Regions from separate parts of the Homo sapiens genome. Here region 2 is linked to region 1. A link means that fine-mapping ties the variant in region 1 to the expression of a gene that starts in the linked region. Tissue or cell type: monocytes. Region 1 holds a variant in brackets; the other region holds the start of a gene. All regions are shown on one strand. Distances are from middle to middle.

The links. PIP is the estimated chance that this variant, and not a neighbour inherited with it, causes the effect.
Region 2: CHFR starts here. The variant in region 1 is fine-mapped to the expression of CHFR in monocytes (TOPMed, PIP above 0.99).

What each region holds. Positions count from the first base shown.
Region 1 is chr12:132,907,186-132,915,366 of GRCh38, reverse strand. It overlaps LOC124903065 (a long non-coding RNA gene), which reads right to left and starts at 6,699. Exons shown (of 2, transcript XR_007063553.1): 1 at 6,219-6,699; 2 at 635-4,373. RefSeq lists a silencer at 6,926-6,975. The variant C/A (reference allele first, on the strand shown) is at 4,945.
Region 2 is chr12:132,883,435-132,891,615 of GRCh38, reverse strand. CHFR (checkpoint with forkhead and ring finger domains) reads left to right here and starts at 4,011. Exons shown (of 18, transcript NM_001161346.2): 1 at 4,011-4,069; 2 at 4,276-4,420. The coding sequence starts at 4,288. CHFR-DT (CHFR divergent transcript) reads right to left here and starts at 3,774. Exons shown (of 2, transcript NR_110919.1): 1 at 3,684-3,774; 2 at 3,045-3,496. RefSeq lists enhancers at 1,615-2,415, 2,416-3,218, 3,555-3,964 and a silencer at 4,035-4,154.

The sequences.
Region 1 (8,181 bases):
AGTAAAAAATAGTCTGAGGCAGGAGGTTGGTGTGAACCTGGGAGGTGGAGCTTACAGTGAACCGAGATTGTGTCCCTGCACCCCAGCCTGGGCGACAGAGCGTGACTCCGTCTCAAAAAAGAAAAGAAATAGTGACAGCGGCTGGGTGCAGTGGCTCATGCTTGTAAGCCCAGCACTTTGGGAGGCTGAGGCGGGTGGATCACGCGGTCAGGAGTTCGAGACCAGCCTGGCCAAGATGGTGAAACTCCATCTCTACTAAAAATACAAAAATTAGCCAGGCATGGTGGTGCGCACCTGTAATCCCAGCTACTCGGGAGGCTGAGGCAGAGAACTGCTTGTACCTGGAGGCGGAGGTTGCAGTGAGCCAAGACACGCCATTGCACTCCAGCCTGGGCAACAGAGCAAGACTCTGTCTAAAAAAAAAAAAAAAAAAAATAGTGACACCATCAAATGTTGAGGGTACATAGAAGCTGTATCACTAATACATTACCAGTGGGAGTGGAAAATGGTACAGCAATTCTAGAAAACAGTTTGGCAGTTTCTTATGAATTAAACATCAAATTACCATATAACCTAGCAATTGCACTTTTGGGGATTTATCCCAGATAAATATATTTTCTCACCAAAACCTGTACACAGATTAATATCAGTTTATTTGAACAGCCAAAAACTGAGAATAAGGTAAATGGTTAAACAAATTGTGGCACACACATATGGAATGCTATTCAGGAAAATAAATGGACTACTGATACACACAAAAACTTGGATTAATCTCTAGAGAAGTACACCAAATGCAAGAAATCAGTCCCATAAGGTTGCATATTGTATTATTCCATTTATATAACATTTCTGAAATCATAACATTTTTAATGGAGGACAGATTCTTGTGTTGCCAAGGTTTAGGAATGGGGGTAGAATGGTGGGAAGTGGGTAAGTGTTGTTATAAAAGATCTGTATGTTGAAAACGTCAAAACGCTTATGAGAGAAATAAGGGAAATCCAAATCCTAAATAAATGGAAATATGTATCATATTTGTGGTTTGGAACAATAAATAGTAGAATGTCAGTTCTCTCTAGATTTACCTATAAATTTATTGCGATCCCAATGGAAATTCCAGCAGGAGTTTTTGTAGACATTAACAAGTTAATCAAATTTATTTGGAAAAGCAGAAGAAACTAGAATAGCCAAAACATCTTTTGTCAAAGAGGAACAGAGCTGGAAGACTCGCACTCCCTGACTTCGAAACTTACTGTAAAGATACAGCAATCTAAACATTGTGTCAGAGAAAGGATAAACACATAGATCATGGACCATAATTGAGAATACATAAATAGACCTTCGTGTATATGGTCAATTGATTTTTGACAAAGTTGCAAGGGCAAATCAATGAAAATAGTGGTTTAAAAAAATGGTGCTGCAACAATTGAAAGTCAATATACAAAACAAATGAACCTCAATCCATAACTCATCCCATATTCAAACTTAATAGATGAAGATTTAAATGTAAAACCTTCACTTAACAAAAATTCTAGACACTGCACCACAGCAAAGATAAAGAGTTTACCACTAATAAACCCTCAATGAAGGAACTTCCAAAGATTGCCATCAGAGAAAAGTAGTGGGTGAAGCCAAGAGGTAATACATGTGAACCTAAACTAGTATTGGCTATGTAAACTAACAATAATAATGTTATGTTACTGGTTATGCAACAAAAATAACGCAGAACTAAAACAGTGAGTAACATGGTATGTGTTCAGGATGATCAGAGATAAAAATGTTGGGACGCTGGGTGCAGTGGCTCACGCCTGTAATCCCAGCACTTTGGGAGGCCAAGGCAGACAGATCACCTGAGGTCAGGAATTCCAGACCAGCCAGACCAACATGGTGAAACCCTCTCTCTACTAAATACAAAAAATTAGCCAGCTGTGGTGGTGGGTGTGTGTAATTCCAGCTACTTGGGAGGCTGAGGCAGGAGAATCGCTTGAACCTGGGAGGTGGAAGTTGTAGTGAGCCAAGACTGTGCCACTGCATTCCAGCCTGGGCAACAAGAGTGAAAACTCTGTCTCAAAAAAAAAAAAAAAAAAATTGGAGCCAGGCGTGGTGGCTCACACCTGTAATCCCAGCACTTTGGGAGGCCGAGGCTGGTGGATCACCTGAGGTCAGGAGTTCGAGACCAGCCCGACCAACATGGAGAAACCCCAGTCTCTACTAAAAATACAAAAATTAGCTGGGCGTGGTGTCAGGCACCTGTCATCCCAGCTACTCAGGAGGCTGAGGCAGGAGAAATGCTTGAACCTGGGAGGAAGAGGTTGCAGTGAGTTGAGATCGCGCCATCGCACTCCAGCCTGGGCAAGAAGAGCAAAACTCTGCCTCAAAAAAAAAAAAAAAATTGGGATGCCTCTCTGTTGGTTATGGAGAGAGCAGATTAAGTGATTACCTTTAGACTTTGTTAAGTCTTGTATACATAGCAAACACCTTAACATTAACACTTAAAGAATAGATATTGAAAATGGAAGTGAGAAAGCTTGATTAAATCCAAAAGAAGATAGAAAATAATAAGGGACAAAAAACACAAGGCCAATGGAAAGCAAAAAGTAAAATGATAGAAATAAACATAACTGTATCAATAATCTTTTTTTTTTTTTTTTTTTTTTTTGAGACGGAGTCTCGCTCTGTCGCCCAGGCTGGAGTGCAGTGGTGCCATCTTGGCTCACTGCAAGCTCTGCCTCACGGGTTCACGCCATTCTCCTGCCTCAGCCTCCTGAGTAGCTGGGATTACAGGCACCCACCACCACACCCGGCTAATTTTTTGTATTTTTAGTAGAGATGGGGGTTCACCATGTTAGCCAGGATGGTCTCGATCTCCTGACCTAGTAATCTGCCCACCTCGGCTTCCCAAAATGCTGGGATTACAGGCGTGAGCCACCGCACCCAGCCAACTGTATCAATAATCACAAATCATATAAACTCATCGGTTTAAAAGCAGAATGTCGCATTATGCTTTAAAATATTCCATGTATATGTTTATAAAATAAATGCATAAAAATGTTATAAAAAGTGAGTATGAGTGGAAAAATATATACCTGGCAAACATTAATTGGGTAACATAAGCTTTAGGGAAACCATCGTTAGGAATAAAAAGGGTCATTATATAAGGATAAAAGTACAATTTTCTATGAAGATATAATGATTCTATGTTCAAAATTTCAAATTAACATAGACCAAAGAATGTATTATACAAAATAGGACAATTAGAGGAATAAACTACAAATCCACATTACCATTTGGAAATTTTTGCACACTTTTCTTAGGAATTGATAGAGCAGGACAGCACATAATTGGTAAGTGATCTGGTTTGGCTGTGTCCCCACCCAAATCTCTTCTTGAATTGCAGCTCCCTTAATTCCCACATGTGGGAGGGACCTGGTGGGAGATAACTTGTTTTGGCTATGTCCCCACCCAAATCTCATCTTGAATTGCAGCTCCCACAATTCCCACATATTGTGGGAGGGACCCAGTGGGAGATAACTGAATCTTGGGAGTGGTTTCCCTGATACTGTTCTCATGGTAGTGAATAAGTCTCATGAGATCTGGTGATTTGACAAGGGGTTTCCTTTTTGCTTGGTGCTCTGATTCTCTCTTGCCACCAGCATGTCAGAAGTGCCTTTCACCCACCATGATTATGAGGCCTCCCCAGCCACATGGAACTGTGAGTCCATTAAACCTCTTTTACTTTATAAATTACTCAGTCTTGGGTATGTCTTTATCAGCAGCGTGAAAATGGACTAATACAGTAAGTATATGAAAAATTTGATTTATACAATGAATACGGTGGGTTTAACTGATATAGGACACCACACAAAATGGGATATAATCTAAAGTGGCACTTACTGGAAAATGCATTACCCCAAATGCCTCTATTAGGAAAACAGGATCAATGGAAATGTAAGTGTTAAGCATCCAACCCAAGAGATTAGGAAGAATCCTAGAAAATATCCAAATAAAAGTAGCAAAAAGGAAATAATGAAGATGAAAATGAGAATTAACAGATAATAAATCCACATCTAAAAGCTTCTTTCTTGAAAAGACTAGTGAGGCAGGGCGCGGTGGCTAACGCCTGTAATCCCAGTACTTTGGGAGGCCAAGGCAGATGGATCACGAGGTCAGGAGATCAAGACCAGCCTGGCCAACATGGTGAAACCCCGTCTCTACCAAAGATGCAAAAAATTAGCCAGGTGTGGTGGTGTGTGCCTGTAATCCCAGCTACTTGGGAAGCTGAGGCAGGGGAATTGCTTGAACCCTGGAGGTGGAGGTTGCAGTGAGCCGAGATTGTGCCGTTGCACTCCAGCCTGGGCGACAGGGTGAGACGCTGTCTGAAATAAATAAATAAATAAAGACTAATGAAATGCAAAACTTCCATTGCTAGATTAGAAATAGACCCAGAATAGTCAACACAGTATTGAAGGAGAAGAGCAATGTTGGGGAGCTGACACTACCCAACTTCAAAATTTCCTATAAAGCGATAGTAATGGAGACACTCTGATACTGGCAGAAGAATGGACAAAGAGGTCAGTGGGGCAGAATAAAGAGCCCAGAAGCAGCGCCACACAAATATAGTCAACTGATGTTTGACAAAGGAGCAAGGGCAATGCAATGGAGAAAGGATAGTCTTTTTAGCAAATGGTGCTGGAAAAACTGGACATCCACAGGCAAAAATGTGAATCTAGACAAAGACCTTATACCTTTCACAGAAACTAACTCAAAATGGATCAAAGACCTGAATGTGAAATGCAAAACTATACAACTCCTGGAAGACAGCACAGAAGAAAATCTAGGTGATCCTGGGTTTAGTGATATTTTCTCAGATACCATACCAAAAGTACAATCTGTGAAACAAAAAACTGATAAGTTGAACTTCATTAAAATTTAAAACTTGTGGCCAGG[C/A]GTGGTGGCACATGCCTGTAATCCCAGCTACTTGGGAGGCTGAGGCAGAAGAATCACTTGAACGCGGGAGGTGGAGGTTGCATGGGGCCGAGATCGCGCCATTGCACTCCAGCCTGGGCAACAAGAGCAAGACTCCGTCAGGAAAAAAAAAAAAAAGGGCCAGGCGTGGTGGCTCACGCCTGTAATCCCAGCACTTTGGGAGGCTGAGACGGGTGGATCACAAGGTCAGGAGTTCAAGACCAGCCGGGCCAAGAGACCAGCCTGGCCAATATGGTGAAACCCCGTCTCTACTAAAAATACAAAAATTAGCCGGGCGTGATGGCGGGCACCTATCATCCCAGCTACTTGGGAGGCTGAGGCAAGAGAATTGCTTCAACCCGGGAGGCAGAGGTTTCAGTGAGCCGAGATCGTGCCATTGCACTCCAGCCTGGGCAACAGAGCGGGACTCCGACTCAAAAAAAAAAAAAAAGTAAACTATAAACTTCAGTTAATAATAATATATTAATATTGGTGTATCAGTTGTAACAAATGTACCAGAGTAATATGAAACGTAAATATAGGGGAAACACTATGGTAGAACATAAGGGGAACACTAAGGTAGAAAGGGATGGGGGGAACTCCTTGTTCTTTCCAGTTGATTTTTCTGTAAACCCAACACGCTCTAAACAAAAATAAAATATATTAATTTTTTTTTAGTGCAACTAAACAAGGTCCATGAAAAAGAGAATATTGGGTGGGCGCGGTGGCTCATGCCTGTAATCCCAGCACTTTGGGAGGCTAAGGCAGGAGGCTCGCTTGAGACCAGTCTGGGCAATAGAGTGAGACCTCGTCTCTATAAAAAATTTAAAAATTAGCTGAGTGTGGTGACACACACTTGTAGTCCCAGCTACTCGGGAGGCTGAAGTGGGAGGATTGCCTGAGCCCAGGAGGCAGAGGTTGCAATGAGATTGTGGCACTGCACTCCAGCCTGGGTGACAGAAAGAGACCCTGTCTCCAAAAAAGAAAAAAATATTACAGGTTGGTCTTAGGATATATATTTTTAAATCCTGGTGAAGGATAAGTGAGCTTTTCTCAGGGAAGCAGGTGGGACAGAGGGGAATCACTTTGGGAGTGGCCTCCCACTAGTGACCTCACAGACCCCCTCACTGACCCGGCAGACCCCACATCACTGACACGTAAGACCCCAGATGACGAGGCCTGCACATCTCCTGTGACGGACAGCTGAGACCCCGTACCACTGCCCGGACCCAGCCCTGGCCCAATGGGGCTCGCACCTCCAAAGCCCACGTCCACACGTTCCGAGCCCGCCGTCCCATCGCAAACATCCGGGGGCCGCCACTGCGCCTAACGACCGCCCATCTCTGACGCCTCGGGTCGGCGTTTGATTTTTAACCCAAGAAAAGAGTAAAAGTCAAGCGGAAATCAACGCAGAAGCGGTGCTGCAGCCTCTGAGCTTCCTGACGGCCGTGTCCAGAGCCGGGCTCCTCCTCCGGCGGCAGCCGCCGGGCTCACTTCAGTGCGCTCAGCTTCTCGCGGGGACAAGCGTCTGGGCGGGGACGGCCCGAGGCGGGGGTGTGGCGAGGCTGGAGAACGCTGAAAGCTGGTGGGCTTGGGAAGACAAACGACGCTCTGAAATTTGGCTCCCAGGTAATACGTTCCGGCACTTCGCGGCGGCTCAGTCAGCGCTGCTGGGTTCCACCCCTCCTATGCGTTGCTCAGGGACAGGTTTCTTAGTGACAGGCCCCTCACTATTCCCATTGGCCAGGACGCCCAAGGCCCACGCAGCCGTTGGCTAAAATTGTTGTCTGTTTCAGACACGTTGGCGAATTCCCCGCCTCTACGTTGCCGGGAGACAGCATGTTGCCTAGCAGCGTGCGGCTCCCATTGCCTTTGGGCGCGGCTCTCCGCCCCGACCCGCCCCTCTGGGACCCATCCGGGTCTGCGCCTCAGCTAGACAGGGCGGGCTGCGGCGCGCAGTCTTAGGCGTGCGCTTCGGGGAAGGGGCCCTCGCGTGGGAGGAGCGCGTCTGCGAGGGATGCGCCGGCGCAGGCGAGACCCGGAGCCGCGTGGTCTCTGCGCAGTGCGTCGTGTGGGGCGGCCGACCCCGGCCCGGGTTTCCCTGCTCGTTTTCGTCCGGGCGGGCGTCTTGGTTCCCGTTCCAGGCCAGCCCCATCCTAGGTCGCTGCTTCATCCAGCGCTTGGGGCATTTGTGTCGTTGGCGTTGTTTTCCTCTTAACTACAAACTTTAAATGTGTTCATCTACTCGTGACGGCGAGTTTAGCAGACTTTCATTCCCAGAAGACGTGTCACACGATCTGTATATTTTTCATACAGAAATTGACGGACGTCGTTACTTCTAAATTTCCACAGGGGCTGGTTCATCCCGCGGCTTTACCTAGAGAAAAACGTCTGAGGCCGGGCGCGGCGGCTCCCGCCTGTAATCCCAACACTTTGGGAGGCCGAGGCGGGCGAATCACGAGGTCAGGAGTTCGAGACCAGACTGGCCAACATGGTGAAACCTCGTCTCTACTAAAAATACAAAAAAAAAAAAAAAAAAAAAAAAAAAAAAAAATAGCCGGGCGTGGCGGCGCATGCCTGTAATCCCAGCTACTCAGGAGGCTGAGGCAGGAGAATCGCTTGAACCCGAGATGGTGCCACTGCACTCCAGCATGGGCGATAGAGCGAGACTCCGTCTCAAAAAATAATAATAAAATAAAAACCATGGACAATGGGAGGAGAACATCACACACCGGGGCCTGTCGGGGGTGGGGGGCCAGGGGAGGGATAGCATCAGGAGAAATACGTAATGTAGATAACTGGTTGATGGGTGCAGCAAACCACCATGGCACGTGTATACCTATGTAACAAACCTGCAGGTTCTGCACATGTACCCCAGAACTTAAAGTATAATTTTAAAAAGAGAGAGAGAAGCGTCTGAGCGTTTCTCAGGGACGGCGGGTGGCAGCCAGGACGGGCTGGGGCGGTGAAGTGCGGGGCGGGAAGCGACGCGTGCGCCTCCTGCGCTGGCTTCTGTGAAAGGAGGGACTGATTGGAGATCACTGCTGAAAAGTGGACTACGCATCAGTGAATAGTTAGTGAAATATGAGCTTCTACATTCAAAACCATTTGTGCTTTAAAGATTTTGTTTCACCATGGTATCGTATTTATCTGAATCCTATGTTGCTTTTGCTTTGTAATCTGAATTGTCTGTCACTCCCCCAGTCTCAGTTTTTTGTT
Region 2 (8,181 bases), 24 kb after region 1:
GCCATGAACTGGGCTTGGTTTTCGTCTTTACCTTGGGTAGTTTCTTTAAGCTTGTCATAATTAACAGGTTTGTAAGCTGCCTTTTTAAGCCCTTCAACTAGGCAGGAAATCATGTAATCTTGCCTAGCTGTACCTGGGGAATCTGCCTGATAGTTCCATTGGGGATCCTCTCGGGGAACTGCTCTGATGCCTTCCTGGAGGTATGGCTCGTGAAGCCGGTGGTTATCAGCGTGAGATTGGGCTAGAGAAAAAACTCTTTCCCGTTCATCTGGGGAGAGGGTAGAAGTCAGGATGACATTTAGGTCACTCCAGGTTAACTTGTAGGACAAAGTTAGATATCGGAATTCCTGTATATGTTTAGTGGGGTCTGATGAGAAAGAGCCTAAATGTTGACTGATCTGAGAGAGGTCTGATAGAGAAAAAGGCACATGTACCCTGACTATGCCTTCAGCTCCAGCCACCTCTCTAAGAGGAAATTGTTGGGCAGGTGGGGAAGAGCTAGTCAAGGAACTAAACTGTAAGCCGGACCGGGTGTGAGGAGGGGAGGTGACAGAAAGATTATAGGGTGGAGGAGCGGAGGCTGAGGAAGAATTGGGACTTAGCTTGGCCTGGCGACGAGCAGCCTGGGGAGGAGGGGAGAGGTCAGATGGGTCTGTAGAAAAGGAAGACTGGAAAGACTCAGCGACGCTTGGGGTTGGGACTGAGGGAACAGGCAGGAGGGAGAGAAGGAGGATTTGGGAGGAATCGCATTGGGAACAGAGACTAGGGAGGGAACGAAGTGTGAAAAATGCCTGGATGTAAAGCACCTCAGATCATTTGCCTATTTTTTGACAAAAATTATTTAGGTCTTGTAGAATGGAGAAGTTGAAAGTGCCGTTTTCTGGCTATTTAGAGCCATTGTCAAGTTTGTATTGGGGCCAAGCGGTGTTGCAGAAGAAAACAAGGCGTTTAGGTTTTAGGTCAGGTGTGAGTTGAAGAGGTTTTAAGTTTTTGAGAACACAGGCTAATGGAGAAGAGGGAGGAATGGAGGGTGGAAGTTTGCCCATAGTGAAGGAGGCAAGCCCAGAGAAAAGAGAGGGTAGAGACATGGAGAGAAGGGGGTGGGGGGTGCTTGCCACCCAGGAAAGTGAAGAAGGGGTAGAGACACGGAGAGAAGGGGTTGGGGGGTTCTTGCCCCCCAAAAAAGCATTACTTGCCACTAAGGGTGAAGGACCAAGGCAGGCGTCCCTGCATGGTCAGACACCTCTGAAACGTGGGTGAATAATCAGGCAGGCGTCCCTGCGCGATTAAACACCAAGGGAAGACTGTCTTCCCGAGTCCATGACCGGCGCCGGAATTTTGGGTTCATGGATAAAACGCGTCTCCTTTGTCTCTACCAGAAAAGGAAAGGAACTGAAATTAAGAGTAGGGAGAGATTAAAGTGTGGCACCAAGATTGAAAGGAGAAAGAGGTTGAAGGATAGTGAGAGAGGTGGGAGAAGAGAGTGAAAAGAGGCCATTACCCGATTTAAAATTGGTGAGATGTTCCTTGGGCTGGTTGGTCTGAGGACCTGAGGTCGTAGGTGGATCTTTCTCACGGAGCAAAGAGTAGGACAGGGGATTGATCTCCCAAGGGAGGTCTCCCGATCCGAGTCACGGCACCAAATTTCACTCGCGTCCATGTGAAGAGACGATCAAACAGGCTTTGTGTGAGCAATAAAGTTTTTTACTCACCTGGGTGTAGGCGGGCTGAGTCCGAAAAGAGAGTCAGCAAAGGGCAGATAGGGGTAGTGGGGCCGTTTTATAAGATTTAAGTAGGTAAACGAAAATTACAGTCAAAGGGGGGTTGTTCTCTGGTGGGCAGGGGTGGGGGTCACAAGGTGCTCAATGAGGGAGCTTTTTGAGCCAGGATGAGCCAGGAGAAGGAATTTCACAAGGTAATGTCATCAGTTAAGGCAAGGACCGGCCATTTTCACTTCTTTTGTAGTGGAATGTCATCAGCTAAGGCAGGAACAGGCCATTTTCACTTCTTTTGTGATTCTTCAGTTACTTCAGGCCATCTAGGCATATATATACATGCAGGTCACAGGGGATGCGATGGCTTAGCTTAGGTTCAGAGGCCTGACATGATCCACCTGCCTCAGCCTCCCAAACTGCTGGGATTACAGACGTGAGCCACTGCGCCCAGCCGGTTTTACACCTTTTAGGGAGAAAGTTCATAGATGGATTCAAAGATTTTCTGATTGGCACTTGGTTGAAAGAGTTGTTATTATCTAAAGACCTGGAATCAATAGAAAGGATTGTCTGGGTTAAGCTAAGGGAGACAAAGTTTCTATTTTGTTATTTTTTTTTTGACAGGGTCTCTGTTGCCCAGGCTGGATTGCAGTGGCACAGACTGTGGTTTACCGCAGCCTTGTCCTCCCGGGCTCAAGGAATCTGCCCACCTCAGCCTCCTGAATAGCTGGGACTATAGGCATGTGCTGTCATCATGTCCAGCTAAGACGGGGTCTCCCCATGTTGCCCAGGATGGTCTGAATTCCTGGGCTCAAGCGATCCACCCACCTCGGCCTCCCAAAGTGCTAGGATTACAGGCTTGAGCACCACCACTCTGGCCATTCTAATGCAGATGCCGCTCCAGGCAGCAGGCTTCAGAGAGAATAGATGGTAAACTTTTCTTATCAGAGTTAAAAAGGTGCCAGAGTCTTACATTCTCTCCTGGATCAGGAAAAGATGTGGAAAAGGAAGGAGATTCTCTACAAAGTAGATTTCCCCCAGGAGACAGTTTTGCAGGGCTACGTAAAACTATGTTAAATAAATACATGTCAGGGTAAAATACTTCGTTTTCTTCCAGGGCCTGCTATTTGTCATGTGATGTATCTTAATGCTACAGACCGTTTGGTCAGCCTTAAGTTGTCTGTTTTAACGTCGACGCTGGTCAGTTATACCTGAATTCCAAAGGGAGGACAGTATAATGGGACATATCCAAACCCTGCTTCCCATCAGGGACTGAACTGGTTTTTCAGATTAACTTTGGCGTTGAGAGACTCAGTTCATTCAGTTGGTTGGGGAGGCTTACAATTTTATTTTTGGTTTACAAGGTATAGATAACTATGCCTATACCTATATATACAAATGTTTATATATGTATATATGTGTGTATATATGGTTTGTTTTACACAAATGGATGCCTACTTTATTTATTTTGGTAGCGATGAGGTCTCAGGCTAATCTCGAACTCCTGGGCTCGAGATCCTCCTGCCTAGGCCTTCCAAAGCACTTAGATTACAGGCGTAAGTCACTGCGCCCGGTCCTGCTTCACCCTCTTAAAACCGCCCTTGGGGGCTCCTCATGAGTGCAGACATTGGCGCGTTCCTCCAAACCGCACAGACTCCCCCTGCGTGGACGCGTCTCGCCGTCTTTACTCCTCTTTCGCCGACCTTTCACTTTCAGGGAATACCCTCTGGCGCCCTTCTCTGGAGCACACACGTGAACGCCGCCGGATTCCAAGAAGTGAGATACTGAGGCAAAAGTTACGCGCGTTCAGAACAGGAAGACCCCGCAAAACGCCGGCCAAGACGTGGCCCCGCGTCCACCCTGCCCACAAGCAGCCGCTCCCACTCGCGGACCGCGCCCTGTGCCTCAGACTTCGGATCTGTGTGATCCACTGTGTGCAACTGTACCCGAAAGGGTCCCCACGTGCACTACCTCGTGACAACTAAGATGGACCGTCTTCTACTCCTAGGAGTCATCCCCAGATTAGCGGGGCTCTCAGAATCCTTGGGGCTTCCAATCCGGAAGTTCCCCGTCCCTTCTGCCCCAACATAACATGGCGCCGACCGCAGCCACTTCCGTGATCCGCAGGCGACGAAGTCGCCTGGTCAGGATCAAAGATGGCCGAGCGCCCTCCACGCGCCTACTCTCGCGGGCCACTCCCGGCTCCGCTTTAGCTGCCGCTCTTGGTGAGCGCCGCCGCCAGCCAATCGCGGGGCGCAGAGGCCTCTGGCCCCGCCCCGCGGATCAGCTGAGGGAGCCGCAATGTCTCTTGACAGCGGCGGCGGCGCAGCCGGTTCCGGGTTCGGCGCGGGGCGGGGGTAAGCGCGGCTGGCGAGGGGGCTGCGGCGGGCGGCGAAGGGGGACCTGGTTGCGGCCGTGGGAGGGGGCGCCCGCCGGCGTCCAGGCCGGGCTGCGGGGCTGCGTGGGCGCGGGCGGCCGGGCCGGGGCCCGCGGGGTGGGGCGGGCGCCGAGTCTCGGCCTCTGGGGTCGGGAGTCTCCATGGGCGTTTCCGGGGTCTCCGCAGATGTGAATCCCGATGGAGCGGCCCGAGGAAGGCAAGCAGTCGCCGCCGCCGCAGCCCTGGGGACGGCTCCTGCGTCTGGGCGCGGAGGAGGGCGAGCCGCACGTCCTCCTGAGGAAGCGGGAGTGGACCATCGGGCGGAGACGAGGTGCGGGGCTGAGGCCGGGGCCGGGGGCCGGGGCCGGGCAGAGCCACCGGGTTGCGGGCAGGCCACACGGGCGGCGGTGCAGTGTGCGCTCCAGATTTTTCCGTGGAGTGAAATGTCATGTAAGAACTGGTATTTATTCGGTGTTCTGCCCACCGATTCTTGCGCATGATTCACGCACATCATTTAGCCTTCGTTACAACTGTATAAGTTAGTTGTGTTCATATACTCTCCAGAATGCAATATTGTCACGTTCGTTGCCGTACAGAGTATCTTTTCTGACTGTAATGGAACGAAATTAAAAATAATAGAAGGAAAAGTGGAAAATTCACAGATATGTGGACATGAAACACCACACTCTTAAAGCAACCGGTGGGTCAAATAAGTCTTTACAACGGGGACCTTGTTTTGAGACAAATGAAACAAAAATAGAATACACCAAAAGGTATTTAGGATGCAGCCAAGGCAGTACTCAGAGGGAAATTTATAGCTGTAGTGCTTATATTAAAAAAGATCTCAAGTCCCAGCCCCTAGAATATTTATTTATTTAATAAACCTGGAAAGCTAAAAACTTGAACAAAGTCATACAACGGGTGAGAGAAAGTTCCCTCAGCCTCCACATTCACTGCCTCCAGTCTCCCAAGTGACCATCTGGTTGTTTGATTTCCTCTGAAGCCTTTGTATGGGGAGAGAAATGCGCTGGTCCTGTCAACAAAAATGTTTAGTTTGTCTGAAAATTAATGAATTAGCTCCGACATTATACTCTAAAAAGGAGCGAGGATGGGAAATATTTGCTGTTTGGAAGCAATTTTTTTTTTTTTTTTGGTTAATTTCACCCCTTATAATGTGCTTGCACCTGGTTTTTTTTGTTTTTTTGTTTGTTTTTTTGAGATAAGAGTCTTGCTCTGTGGCCCAGACTGGGGTGCAGTGGTGTGATCTCAGCTCACTGCACCCTCTGCCTCCCGGTTCAAGTGATTCTCCCGCCTCAGCCTCGGAGTAGCTGGGACTACAGGCGTGCGCCACCATGCCTGGCTAATTTTTGTATTTTTAGTAGAGATGAGCTTTCGCCATATTGCCCAGGCTGGTCTTGAACAACTGAACTAAAGTGATTCACCTGCTTCGGCCTCCGAAAGTGCTGGGATTACAGGTGTGAACCACTGTGTCTGACCTGGTTTTGTTTTTTGGGGTGTTTTGGTAGTCTTACATTCCAGTATCAAGTCAAAGTTTATTTTACAACTTTGAAAGTATTTAGATATCATCATAACATATCAAAATTATCCCTTTAAGACAAGAGGAAGTATTTGAAGATTTTTCCCTTTGTCTTTACTTGATAGACTAGGAGGTTTGGTGAAGAGCAGAGGCCCTAGAGACAAATTATGTGGGTTTCCAATCTGTCAACACATTACTCTGGGCTAACGACATCTTTCTGCGCCTATGTACCTACTTCATAGATTTGCTCTGAGGAGTTAATGAGATCATACACGGACTGCTTAGAAGGAACTTTAGCGTTAGCACTTAGCATTAGCCATTGTTATTGTAACATGTTATACATGTTATTACATGGTAGGACATTACATGTTAAGACAAGGAGAGAAAATATGTCGTTGAGTTTATCTTTTAATAGGAACGATTTTAGTGAATTTATAAATAATGTTGCCAGCAAAAACTTTAAGATTATTGTATTAGTTTGTTCATACTACCATAGCAAAATACTACATTCTGGGTGGCTTAAGCAACAGAAATTTATTTATTTATTTATTTATTTATTTATTTATTTATATATTTTTTGAGACAGAGTCTCACTCTATCACCCAGGCTGGAGTGCAGTGGCGCGATCTCGGCCCACTGCAAGCTCCACCTCCCGGGTTCTTGCCATTCTTCTGCCTCAGCCTCCCGAGTAGCTGGGACTACAGGCGCCCACCACCACGCCTGGCAGTGGTATTTTGTATTTTTAGTAGAGACGGGGTTTCACCATGTTAGCCAGGATGGTCTCAATCTCCTGACCTCGTGATCTGCCTGCCTCAGCCTCCCAAAGTGCTGGGATTACAGGCGTGAGCTATCGCGCCCGGCCAGAAATTTATTTTTTATTTTATTTTATTTTTTTAATTTTTGAGATAGAGTCCTGCTCTGTCACCCAGGCTGGAGTGCAGTGGCATGATCTCGGCTCACTGCAACTTCCCTCTTCCAGGTTCAAGCGATTCTCCTGCCTCAGCCTCCCGAGTAGCTGGGACTACAGGCACGTACCACCACACCTGGCTTATTTTTTTCTATTTTAGTAGAGATGGGGTTTCACTGTGTTGCCCAGGCTGGTCTCGAACTCCTGAGCTCCAGCAATCTGTCTGCCTCGGCCTCTCAAAGTGCTAGGATTACAGGTGTGAGCCACTGTGCCTGGCCAGAAATTTATTTTCATGGTTCAGGAGGCTGGGAAGTCCAAGATCAAGGTGTTGGCAGATTGGGTTCCTGGTGAGGGCTCTCTTGGCTTGCAGGTGGCCACTTTCTTGCTGTGTCCTCACATGGCAGAGAGGGGGACTCTGCTTGCTCTCTCTGCCTCCTCTTAAGAGGGCACCAGCCCTGTGACATCTGATTCCCACCTAGTGACCTCATTTAACATTTATCAGCTCACAGGCCCCATTTCCAAATACAGTCACATTGGGGATTAGGACTTAAATATATGAATTTTAGGGGGGTACAGACACTCAGTTACAAACATTCAGTTCCTAACAGTTGTAGAACTTGATTATTTTATTTATTTATTTTATATATATATATGTATTTTTTTTTTTGAGACGGAGTTTTGCTCTTATTGCCCAGGCTGTAGTGCAGTGGTGCCTTCTTGGCTCAACCTCCAACCTCCCGGGTTCAAGCAATTCTCCTGCCTCAGCCTCCCGAGTAGCTGGGATTACAAGTATGTGCTACCACGCTCAGCTACTTTTTGTATTTTTAGTAGAGACGGGGTTTCTCCATGTTCGTCAGGCTGGTCTTGAACTCCTGACCTCAGGTGATCCACCCGCCTCGGCTTCCCAAAGTGCTGGGATTACAGGCGTGAGCCACTGTGCCCGGCCTGATATATTTATTTTTTGAGACGGAGTCTTACTCTGTCACCCAGGCTGGAGTGCAGTGGTGCGATCTTCACTCACTACAACCTGCATCTTCCAGGTTAAAGTGATTCTCCTGCCTGAGCCTCCAGACTAGCTGAGATTTCAGGCGTGTGCCACCACACCTGGCTAGTTTTTTGGTATTTTTAGTAGAGATGAGGTTTTACCATGTTGGTCAGGCTGGTCTTGAACTCCTGGCCTCAAATCAAATGATCCACCTGCCTTGGCCTCCCAAAGCGTTGGGATTACAGCCATGAGCCACCTCGCCCAGACAGAACTTGATTATTTTAAAGCAATGATGTGCCTGCCATTTATAAGGCATTATTTGGGGGAAAAGGGAAAGCCTAGGTAACGTGTAGGAAGGGGTGCAACAACCTTGTTTTCCCAAAGAGCTCTTTATCCAGTCTGGAGTGCAGTGGCACGATCTCGGCTCACTGCAAGCTCTGCCTCTTGGGTTCACACCATTCTCCTGCCTCAACCTCCCAAGTAGCTGGGACTACAGGCACCCGCCACCATGCCCGGCTAATTTTTTTTGTATTTTTAGTAGAGACAGGGTTTCACCATGTTAGCCAGGATGGTCTTGATCTCCTGACCTCATGATCCACCCGCCTCGGCCTCCCAAAGTGCTGGGATTAGAGGCGTGAGCCACTGCGCCCAGTCTTTTTTTTT